Regions from separate parts of the Homo sapiens genome. Here region 2 is linked to region 1. The links come from fine-mapping of genetic effects on gene expression. A gene starts in region 1. The other region holds a variant in brackets. All regions are shown on one strand. Distances are from middle to middle. Region 1 holds the start of MXD3 (MAX dimerization protein 3). Region 2 overlaps RGS14 (regulator of G protein signaling 14).

What was found. PIP is the estimated chance that this variant, and not a neighbour inherited with it, causes the effect.
Region 2: its variant is fine-mapped to the expression of MXD3 in atrial appendage (GTEx, PIP 0.99).

The regions. Positions count from the first base shown.
Region 1 is chr5:177,309,593-177,314,948 of GRCh38, forward strand. It overlaps MXD3 (MAX dimerization protein 3), which reads right to left and starts at 2,306. Exons shown (of 6, transcript NM_031300.4): 1 at 2,169-2,306; 2 at 1,787-1,892; 3 at 1,076-1,105; 4 at 834-948. The coding sequence starts at 2,238. RefSeq lists enhancers at 1-40, 111-160, 407-1,273, 1,531-1,730, 3,381-3,440 and silencers at 2,281-2,460, 2,591-3,160.
Region 2 is chr5:177,363,808-177,369,169 of GRCh38, forward strand. It overlaps RGS14 (regulator of G protein signaling 14), which reads left to right. Exons shown (of 15, transcript NM_006480.5): 2 at 2,156-2,177; 3 at 2,370-2,548; 4 at 2,901-2,993; 5 at 3,084-3,227; 6 at 3,607-3,750; 7 at 3,907-4,018; 8 at 4,350-4,459; 9 at 4,910-5,113. Among named protein-coding and RNA genes, the nearest start is that of RGS14, 8.6 kb to the left of the region's middle. RefSeq lists enhancers at 694-823, 934-993, 1,124-1,173, 3,147-3,786, 3,787-4,425. The variant TCTGGCCCTGTCTGTCTGG/T (reference allele first, on the strand shown) is at 2,776.

The sequences.
Region 1 (5,356 bases):
ATAGGTCTTTGTGTGCCACAGCCCCCAGTGCCTAGAATAGGGCCTAGCAGAACCAGTGCTCAGTAAACACTTGTCAGAGGAGATAACGCAAGCCAGGGAACTGGGCATGGGTCCTGAATCTGCCGCCCATCAGCTGTGCAACTTGTTGGCCCTCAGCCTAGCTGTGCCTTCATGTATTCCTCTAGAGGGCAGGAAAAGTCCTGTGGTTTCCAAGGCCACTTCTGACATGGCCAGGGCCACCTGGGCCTTTATTCAGCACATCCACTCCTGTCCACCAGGGGGCACTGAGCTCAGCCCCAGCAGCAGCAGGAGCCCTGGGAGGACCAGTGACTGGCGTCTTCTCAGTCCTTTCCCCTCCTGTCCCTGGAGCTGCCTCCCAGGTGGCACCAGGATAGACTGCCCATAACAGGAGGCCTTGAAGGTGAGAGGGGGAGAGCAAGGACCAACCCTCTACAGTCCCAAGGACCCCCACATACATCCCATCACAGAATTCAACAGCCATCCCCTCCCCTCAAACAGGAGGGAAGGTTAGTCCAGACAGGCTAAGTAACCTGCCCAAGGTCTCACAGCTGTGATCTAAGTGATAACAGCTGTAACAGCAACAGTGAACATTTATAGAGTGAACTCATTTAAGCCTCAACAACCCTCTGAGTTATTGTCTGCTTTTCTTCCCATTTAATGGATCTGGAAAGTAAAAGCTCAGAGAGCTGTCCTAAGTCACACAGTTCTTGAGCTCTGACCTCAGGTCTCGTTCCCCAGTCCCACCAGCCCCTCCATAGCACAGCCCTCCATACACCAGGGCAAGCCAGTCCGGGCGCAGTGGGGGGCCTCACCTGGATGTGCATCCTGGCACGGCGCAGCAGGCTCAGCGTGGTGTACCGGGCACAGTCGGCCCCCAGGGGCATCTGCTGCTTCAGCCGCTCCAGGCACCGCTTCAACTGGGCCCTCCTGTGGGGAAGAGGTCTGGAGGGCAGTGCCAGCCCCACCTTGCCGGCCACAGGAATGGCAGGGGAGGGAAGGCCAGAGGGCAGTGGCCCCTGGGGGCTGGCGCTGTCAGGGCAGGACTGGGACTCACCTGCGCTTCTCCAGTTCATTGTGCACTGACCTGCCAATGCCAGAGAGGATGAGGTGAAGGGGAATCAGCTACTGCCCATGCCCCAATCCCAGGGCCCCCAGTGGCTCAAGAGCCACTACAGATGTCTGCCCCAAACAAGTCCCCTGTGGAGAGCTCATGCTGGCCTCAGACACCAGAGTCCCCTGGCAGGGCGAGGGGAGTCAAAGACACACGGAGCCAAATGCTTAACAGAAGCCTGCCCAGGTGGGTATGAGGGCCCTAACAAGGGCGCCTGCCAGCTGGCCAGAAAGGACCTCCCAGAGGTGACAGCTAACTGCGGAAACAGATGTTTCCCAAGCCGGTACTGGAGGGAGGGGCATTCAAATAGGAGGGAACAGCATATGCAAAGGGCTGGGGAGAGGAGAGAAGAGGAGGAAGCCAGCGGGGGAGGTGAGTGGCCTGATGTGTGGGGTGCGGGAGTGCGAGTGGAAGCGGGACCCCAACTGCTGTTGGCAGTTCCCGGCACATCTAGAGGTGCTCAAGAAATAGTCCTTGAATGAATAGAAAGGTGTGAGTGTGTTTGGAGAGTGGGGAGATGGCAGGAGGGGTCTGAACGCTTCCTGGAGCGGGACACCTGGCCCAAAAGATGCAAGCAACAAGTGGGCAGAGGAGGGCCCGACCAGGGGCGGCGCCCACCCCCACCCCCACTCCCGCCGCCCCCGGCCTCCTCACCGCCCGCTGTCCTGCGCGCCAGGAGCCTGGGGGGGTCGCTTCTTCCTCCTGTGGATGGGGCCTGGACTGCGATGCGGGCACAGGGACGCATAACCATGCTCGGCCTCTGCCAGAGAGAGTCCCCGCCCGCGTCAGGCTGGGGCTGGACCTGGTCCCAGCGGCAGCCCCAGGCACAGCACGGTCAAGGAAAGGCTTTTGGCGCCAGGACCATTTCCCCCACCCGTCCCTGCTCTACCGCCCCGGGACTCCTCTCGAGTTGAGGGCGAGGCGCCCCGGGATTACTGTCCTAGGGCGGTGCATCCTTCAAGCTGGGAGCCAGGTCCAGTCCAGGCCCGTGTCAGCGAGGTCGCCGCCCGGAATTCAGCCAAGGGTCCTTCCTCACCTCTCTCACGGCGCTCCAGGAACTCGGCCGCCTGCAGCAGGACCTGGATGTTGCTGGCCAAGGGTTCCATGTCGGCGACAGCTGGCGGCGGGCCGGCCTAGGGTGCCGGCCGGAGCAAGCGGCTGCAGCACTTTTGTTACAAAGTAACTGACACGGTGCAACAAACACAGGGGCCCGCCCCGCCCCCGGGACGCCCCGCCCGCGGGAACGCCCAGCCCTTGGCTCCGCCCCTCTGGAACCCGCCACGGAGCCGCAGCCCACCCTCCGGCAGCCGCCCCGCCCCGAGTGGTCTCAGACTTTCCAGGGGCAGGTAAGGGCGCTGGCTCCAGGCCTGGCCCTGGAGCGAACCCTCAGGCTAACCGGTGCTGCTTCTTGCCCGCCTCACTCATCCACCCACGCCGGCTCATTGGCGTCTTTGATCTCAGCTTCCAGCCCCGTGCTAGTGACTAGCCCCCAACATAGCACGGCGCTCTGGGGGCCTGGTGGTCCCCTGAAAGCGCCGGGCCCAGCCGCTGCACGTGGGTGCCGCGGGGGCGGGGCCTCCGGCCGCCGCTCGCCCATTCGCACATGGCTTCTCAAGGATCGCTGTTGTCATCCTCGGGGCGGGGTCGGGGAGCCTCTGATGCCCTATTGGCTGGCGCTCTGCCCCGCCCTCTCCCGCCGCTGATCCACACGTTCGGGCGGGAAAAGAAGCAGGTTTCAAATTTGAAAACCCAAGCGATGGGGCGGGGTTGAGAGGGGAGCTGGGCCTCAATGCGCAGGCGCCGGCGGAGGGGCGGCGGACCCGGCTCCTGCCCTCCGGGGTCTGTCCCCAAGCCTGCCTGCCATCTGCCCCCGAAGGCCCCCGTGGGCCCCAGCTTCCTACTGTGTCGAATGGGAATAATATCTCGGCCCCCCTCCTCTTCTGTGAGGAAGCTGTTGTTGCTACGAAAACGTCAGTGGGGTAACAGCTTCCTCAGGCAGGCCATACCCTGGAGGCACGCGAAATGGCCTTTTCCGGGGCCTTGGGCTCTGGTATCCACGCAGTTGGGGTCCTCTCCTGTCACTGATGTCTCAGCTGTGTATGACTCAGGAGGTGACCTCCGTCTCTAAGCCTCAGGAGCCCTGCGACAGCGTTGAAGGATCAGAGCCAATGCCTCTGCGGTGCCCATGGCATGAAGGAGCCGCCCATCTCAAAGGCCAGTGCAACCAGACCGCGGCGTTTGCCTCCCAGGCAGCCCCTGCTTGCCTTACTCAGAGTCCATAAACCCTTCTTGCACCTGACTCTCCTAGCCGGCCGAAGGAGTGGCTGTGATGACTTCTAGCCTCAGCACCAGCAGGTGGGGCCACATCTGGGGACAGGAAGATGAACGCAGCTGTAGCAGGGTGGAGCATTGCTGCCAGCCACGGGCTGAGTCTGTGACTCCAGTAATCCCAAAATAGAGAGGGGAGGGAAGGTGGGAGGGATAGATGCTCTGTAAAGAGACAGTCCTGGTAAACACAAGCACATGTCAGTCAGGCCTCAGTTCCTTGGGAAAAATCTTTTTTTTTTTTTTGAGTCTTGCTCTGTTGCCCAGGCTGAAGCGCAATGGCTCAGTCTCGACTCACTGCAACCTCCGCCTCCCGGGTTCAAGCAATTCTCCTGCCTCAGCCTCCCAAGTAGCTGAGACTACAAGCGCCCACCACCACACCCAGCTAATTTTTGTATTTTTAGTAGAGACGGGGTTTCACCGTGTTGGCCAGGCTGGTCTCGAACTCCTGACCTCAGGTGATCCACCCACCTCAGCCTCCCAAAGTGCTGGGATTACAGGTGTGAGCCACCGTTCCTGGCCGGGAAACATCTTGAAGTTTCGGCCAGGCGCCGAAAAAAAATGAAGTTTCTCTAAGAGTTGCTCACAGCGGAATAACTGCCCTGTCTAGGCAGACGATCCATCTACCCAGCCGCCTGTCCTTAACTCACAAAGTATTTGCTGAGCTCTCACTGGACACCAGGCGCTGTGCTGGGGGCTGGAGGACATACGATAGGCAAAATCATACAGGGTCCCTGCCCTTGCAGAGCTCATAGGCTTGAGAGGGAAAGACACCAATACAGTCGCAGGAAGGCGGAGGTCCAGCTGGACAGGTCCTCACAGGGAGAGACCATGCCCCACAACACATTCTAAGGAACATTTGACCTAATTGGTGAGGCCAGAGAAGGCTTTACTGGGGAAATGGATGAAGAGGTGTTATCTAAGTATAGGAGAGATGAAAGAATTCTAGACAAAGGAACAGCACATGCAAAGGCCCTGGGGCTGAAAGGAGCATGGCAGGGGCGGTGTGGCTTACAGAGAGCAAATAGCCTGGTGCAGGCTGACACTGGAGAGGCTGCAGGGCCCAGAACATGCTGATGGGTTCCCCCAAACTCCCCCCTGCAATCAGCCATCTCTGAAGGAAGGAGCCGCAAGGGTTGTGAATGAATTTCCAATTTTATTTCACTAAAGTCAGCACCATGCAGTGCAGACACGAACCTACTCAGATGTCTGGGCCCTAGGTGGCCTGGCCTCCAGTCTGGGTGGGATAGGGGTGGGGAGGTTCTGAAGGAGGAGAATTTTCAGCAAAGGGAAAGAAGGAAGCATATGTGAGCTGAAGACATGGCCAGGAGGTGGTGGGAGTCGGGGTGGGGCTGCAGAGGGGCTGGAGGGCTCATGTCAAGGAGTTTGGACTTCATCCTAGGAGCTGCAGAGCGGTTTTGAGCCAGGGACAGCATGTGGGCTGGGGTCAAGGCCACCGGCCAGGCCAGACAGGAACAATACCTCCCCAGGAACAGGATGGGACGGGGCATGGGGGGATCCAGCCTGGACCAGCAGGGATCCTGCCCCAAGCCCTTGGATGTCCCCTGGGCCCCTGTGAGAAAATGCTAGAGCTAGTGGCCTCTAGGCACAGGACTGGACAGAGGAGCTGCAGTGCCCCCCCAGCAGTGACCAGCCCAGATCCTCTGCCCTGGAGTCCGCAGGGTCCTGCGCTTCGCCCTGTGACCTCCTGCCTCCACCAGCCCACTGTAACTGGGGTTCTGCTGCCTGTACTTGCAGTGCAGACTCTACCCGGGTCTATGGTCCTCTGGGCTCCAAGGACAGAGTCTGCATCTGTGCCCTGAGTGGAAGGGGAGAAGGGAGACCCCCCCGCCCCAGGCCTTTGTCCCAGTTAGGACCCCTTGAAGAGGGGAGCCAATC
Region 2 (5,362 bases), 54 kb after region 1:
GCCTGCCTCCCACTGCCTCCACAAGTAACATAAATGCATTAAACTGGCCCCAGAGGCCTCTGAGAGGAGTGTAAGCCCTTTTGGGGAAGGTGGTGGCTGCTCAATCCCGGACAAGGTTGTCCTGCTGGGAAGGAGCTGGAGCATTACAGTCTCACGGAGCAAGTGGAATTTAAAATCTCTTGCTTTTTAAATGTGGAAAATACCTTTAAATAAAAATAATAATCATCATAATAAAACCTGAGAGGGCCAAGGTAATAGTAATTTCCCACATATCTGCAGACCGGATCTGGCCCACAGATGGCCGCCCTGTGACCTGAATACTCTCAGGGTGGGAGTAGGAAACAGAGAGGAAGGTTCCATTCAGGAGGGTGGGGGTTGGGGGGCTTTCCGGGGTGGAGATGTTTGCAGGCCTGTTTCCAGTTGGGATGGGAATAAGGGGCTGGTGGTAGGAACTTCTGTGACAGGGCATGGTGAAAGTGTAGGAGGTAAGCGGGAAGTAGGAACTGGGGATGACTCAAGCCCTGATGTTGGAAGCCCGGGTGATGGGAAGAAAGATGGGGGCAGGGAAGCTGGTTTGGTACTGTGTTTTGGTGGAGGCAGAGGGAGCTTCCATTTGGGACTTCCATTTGGGAGCTTGAGGGCTTGTGGGACATTTGAGGGGGGACTCGCCCCCCTCCGCTGGGCTGCCTGGCCCTGCCCTCCTCGCGCACACCCTGAGCCTCTGTCCTGCCCTCTAACCCCAAGTCAGGGGTGATAGGCGCTGGAGCCGTTACCAGGAAGTTGGTTATGTGTGTCTGGAGCTGTGGATCTGTGGATGGGACAAAGTGCCCAGGACAGAGCCAGAGAGGGGTTGAGGCCACATTGCATGAGTGGGAGATAGTGGGGAAGCTGGAGGAGCTGCTAGGAAGGTAAAAAGAGAAACAAGAGAAACCACCGCAAGAGTCATTTTGAGAGGAGAGTTTTTCTGTTTCACTAATGATTGGGATTCCCAGAGAAACCAGAGTTGTGCACTGGGGGCAAGGATGGAGTTAGTTACTGCAGCAGTACTACTCACAGAGTAGTCCCTGAACCAGCAGCATCAGCATCGCCTGGGAGCTTGGTAGAAATGGACAGCCTCAGGCCCCATCTTGGACCTACTGAACCTGAATCTCCAGAGGTGGGGTCCTCCCACTCTGCACTGAAGTTTGAGAACCACTGCTCTGTACTATAGACCAGCATCTTGTGCCCTCCCACGGTGGTAATGGGACCCTGGGCCCAATAGGCAACACGTGCGATAGTAAGATCACTGGCTGCAGAGACACCTCTCCTTCCTCAAAGACAGCACATGTTTATACAGCCCATATCACATGCTGGCCCATGTTCTAGATGCTGTGGATATATTTTTATTTGATTTTCTTTTATTGAGACGGAGCTTTGCTCTTGTCACCCGGGCTGGAGGGCAATGCCACAATCTCAGCTCACTGCAACCTCTGCCTCCTGGGTTCAAGCGATTCTCCTGCCTCAGCCTCCCGAGTAGCTGGGATTACAGGCATCCACAACCACATCCAGCTAATTTTTTTTTTTTTTTGTATTTTTAGTAGAGACTGGGTTTCACCATGTTGGCCAGGCTGGTCTCGAACTCCTGACCTCAGGTGATCCACCCATCTCGGCCTCCCAAAGTGCTGGGATTACAGGCGTGAGCCACCGTGTCCAGCCAATGCTGTGAATATATTAAACTGACTTGATCTTTACATCAAGATGGAAGCAAATGGTTTGCCTCCATTTGTAAATAGGCATTATCTCCTATTTACAGATTACAGATGGAGGCAAACAAGTTAACTAACTTGCCCAAAGTTACACAGCTAGTAAGTGGCAGAGACTAAAGTCTGTTCCTACCCACCATGCTATGCACACCTGGCTCACCCAGCAGGGGCTGGGGGAGGAGGGAACCAGGGGCTGCTGGAAGGTACCTGCCATAAGTCCCAGTACTTAGTGGTTGGCACAGGATGGAAGGGGAGCCAGGGGCAGACTGAGGAAAACCCTGACCAAGTAGAACCTGGCCGGGGATGCCCAGGTGGAGGAGAACGCAGTTCCAGCTCCTGGGAGTCGGGCCCAGAACTGTCCCCTGGGAATCCTCACTGGGCTCTTCTGACTTTCTCTGTTGGGTCTCTTATAGGTTCTGGCTGTGTCAGATGGAGGTAAGTGACAGAATGTGTGGAGAACTGGCTGAGTGGGAGGGAGGAGGGAGGTGGAGATGGGTGGGGACACCCCTGCCACCTGCTATCTTTCCAGGGAACATGGCTGCAGAGTGGATGCATGGGGGAGGGTGGGTTGTGCCAGGGGCTGGGGAAGGCAGCAAGGCTCACCCCAACTTGTCCATCCCCCTGCAGAGCTGAGCAGCACGACGGGGCCCCAGGGCCAGGGCGAGGGCCGCGGCAGCTCTCTCAGCATCCACAGCCTCCCCAGTGGTCCCAGCAGCCCCTTCCCAACCGAGGAGCAGCCTGTGGCCAGCTGGGCCCTGTCCTTCGAGCGGCTGTTGCAGGACCCGCTGGGCCTGGCTTACTTCACTGTAAGCCTGGGGTAGGGAAAGGGAAGGGGGGACACGGGAGAGGGCAGGGCGTGGATGGAGCTTCAGGCTGGCCAGAGTGGGGTCCTCTGTCAGCTTCCTCATCTAGCCTTCCTGCAGCACCCTCTTCCTCTTCTCCCAGCTGGGAACTTTTCTTCCTTCTCCCTGTCCTTGTCTCTGCCTCTCATTTTCTCTCCCTGTCTTCAGATCGGTCTGGCTCCGTCTGTCTG[TCTGGCCCTGTCTGTCTGG/T]CTTGGTCTCTTGGCCCTGTCTCTGTCCCAATCTTTTTGATCACATCCCCCAGTTTGGTCTCTGTGTCTCTGAGTCTCTGCCTGCCTCCCCCTCCTTCCCCTCCCAGGAGTTCCTGAAGAAGGAGTTCAGCGCGGAAAACGTGACTTTCTGGAAGGCCTGCGAGCGCTTCCAGCAGATCCCGGCCAGCGATACCCAGCAGGTGGGGGAAGGGGGAGCTGGGGCCGAGGGCTGGGGAGAGGGGAACTGGGCCACGCTCCCTGACCAACTCCTCCTGTCCCTCCTCCTTCAGCTAGCTCAGGAGGCCCGCAACATCTACCAGGAGTTCCTGTCCAGCCAGGCGCTGAGCCCAGTGAACATCGACCGTCAGGCCTGGCTTGGCGAGGAGGTGCTGGCCGAGCCCCGGCCGGACATGTTTCGGGCACAGCAGCTTCAGGTGGGCGATCCTGGGGGGATTGGCCTTGAAAGGGAGACAAAAGGAGCAGGGGCGGGGTCGGACCCTGGCGGGGAGTCTGAACTACAAAGCGGAGGGGGCAAATTTGGAGGCGGAGACAGAGCCAAATGCCGGGGCAGGCAGGGCGGAGCTCAGAGGGCGGTATCAGAGGCACGGGGAAGGACAGTTAGAGGCGGAGCCTAGCTGAGCTCGGGGCGGGCTTGGACCCCGGGGGTGGGTATAGGAACTGAGGTCGGGGCGGGGCTTGGGAAATCCAGCCCTAGGTTTGGGGCGGGGCCAGCCCCAAGGACCCGGCCTGGGTGCAGGCAGCCCAGCGCCCCCACCCCAGCCCCGGCTCACCTGTTCCGGGGTCGCCCCGCAGATCTTCAACTTGATGAAGTTCGACAGCTATGCGCGCTTCGTCAAGTCCCCGCTGTACCGCGAGTGCCTGCTAGCCGAAGCCGAGGGACGCCCTCTGCGGGAACCTGGCTCCTCGCGCCTCGGCAGCCCTGACGCCACGAGGAAGGTGCGTGGGACTGGGCGAGGGACTGGGCGAGGCAGGGGGTCCTGCGGACCGCGTGCAAGAGGGGACGCCTCCGGGTGCAGATCTGCGAGTCTGTGCCCACGGTCTGCATGCGGGCTGGGGCCCAGCCCGGTGCCAGCGCCTCCCCTGTACCCACAGAAGCCGAAGCTGAAGCCCGGGAAGTCGCTGCCGCTGGGTGTGGAGGAGTTGGGGCAGCTGCCACCCGTTGAGGGTCCTGGGGGCCGCCCTCTCCGCAAGTCCTTCCGCCGGGGTGAGGGCAGGAGCGAGCAACAGAGATGTGGGGAAGGCGGGAGTTTGGTTAAATTTGGGGAGTGCCCCCTTCCTCCTACGTGGCCCACAGTCTGTAAGTCTGTGAAAATTGAAACCCAGGTCCCAGTGACCACCACACTCCCCTGGGTGGTTCGGGTCTTGGGCTAGACCTCAGACGTTTGGAAATCTCCAACGGTGGTGTCGCTCCCAGGGATTTACACCTGGGCCCCTGCAGGATGGCTCCAAACAAGGCCCACCAGTGGGGAACAGGCTTCCGCAGAGGATGGGTGAGGGCGGGGGGCTGTTCGCGTTCATCGCTCCCTCTTCACTAGAGCTGGGCGGGACTGCAAACGCCGCCTTGCGCCGAGAGTCTCAGGGCTCCCTCAACTCCTCCGCCAGCCTGGACCTTGGCTTCCTAGCCTTCGTCAGCAGCAAATCTGAGGTGAGCCGACTGTTGGGGAAGACAAGATGCTCTATGGGCTAGAGTCACTACTCAGGCCCATTTACGTGGTGGCCCTCATTCCAAGTTGCTGTCCTTACTGCGTCTCCCAGCTTGCTCTGCGTAGCCAACCCTTCAGCCTCCTTACTTGTCTCACTACATTGGTCCCCATATATGTCATGGGTACACATCCTCAGTTGGCAAATGTGTGCACATGTGCAGCACCCAGGTGTGTATACACAGCACGTGTGTGGGAATCAGCGGGTGGACCCGTCTCTAGGTGCCCATATGCCTGGGTGTGCATACATGTGTTCCTGCAGGAGGACGTATCTTTGCCTGCCTTGGGAGTGCGTGTGCATGCTTGAGCCCCAGCAAGCTTACCTATCTCTGTGTACCTGTGTGCATGCCCTTGCATGTGTACACATAATCTCCCCCACTCCTGCCATGAATCAGAGCCACCGGAAGAGCCTTGGGAGCACGGAGGGTGAAAGTGAAAGCCGGCCAGGGAAGTACTGCTGTGTGTACCTGCCCGATGGCACAGCCTCCTTGGCCCTGGCCAGACCTGGCCTCACCATCCGAGACATGCTGGCAGGGATCTGTGAGAAACGAGGCCTCTCTCTACCTGACATCAAGGTCTACCTGGTGGGCAATGAACAGGTGGGAACGTGACCTGGCTCCAACTCTAACCTCCTTCCTGATCCTGACCCCAACTCCATTTCTGTCTCTGCTCAGTCATGGCTCCAACCCCAATTCAAGTTCTAAACCCAACTCCAAAGCACCCTCAGCACCAACTTTCACTCACTCAGACATCCACCCACCCCCCACCTCATGTCCTTCCAGGTTTCCACCTTCATCCATCATCCTATTGTGGTGACCTTAGGGAGGTAAAACTGGAGAGAACCACTG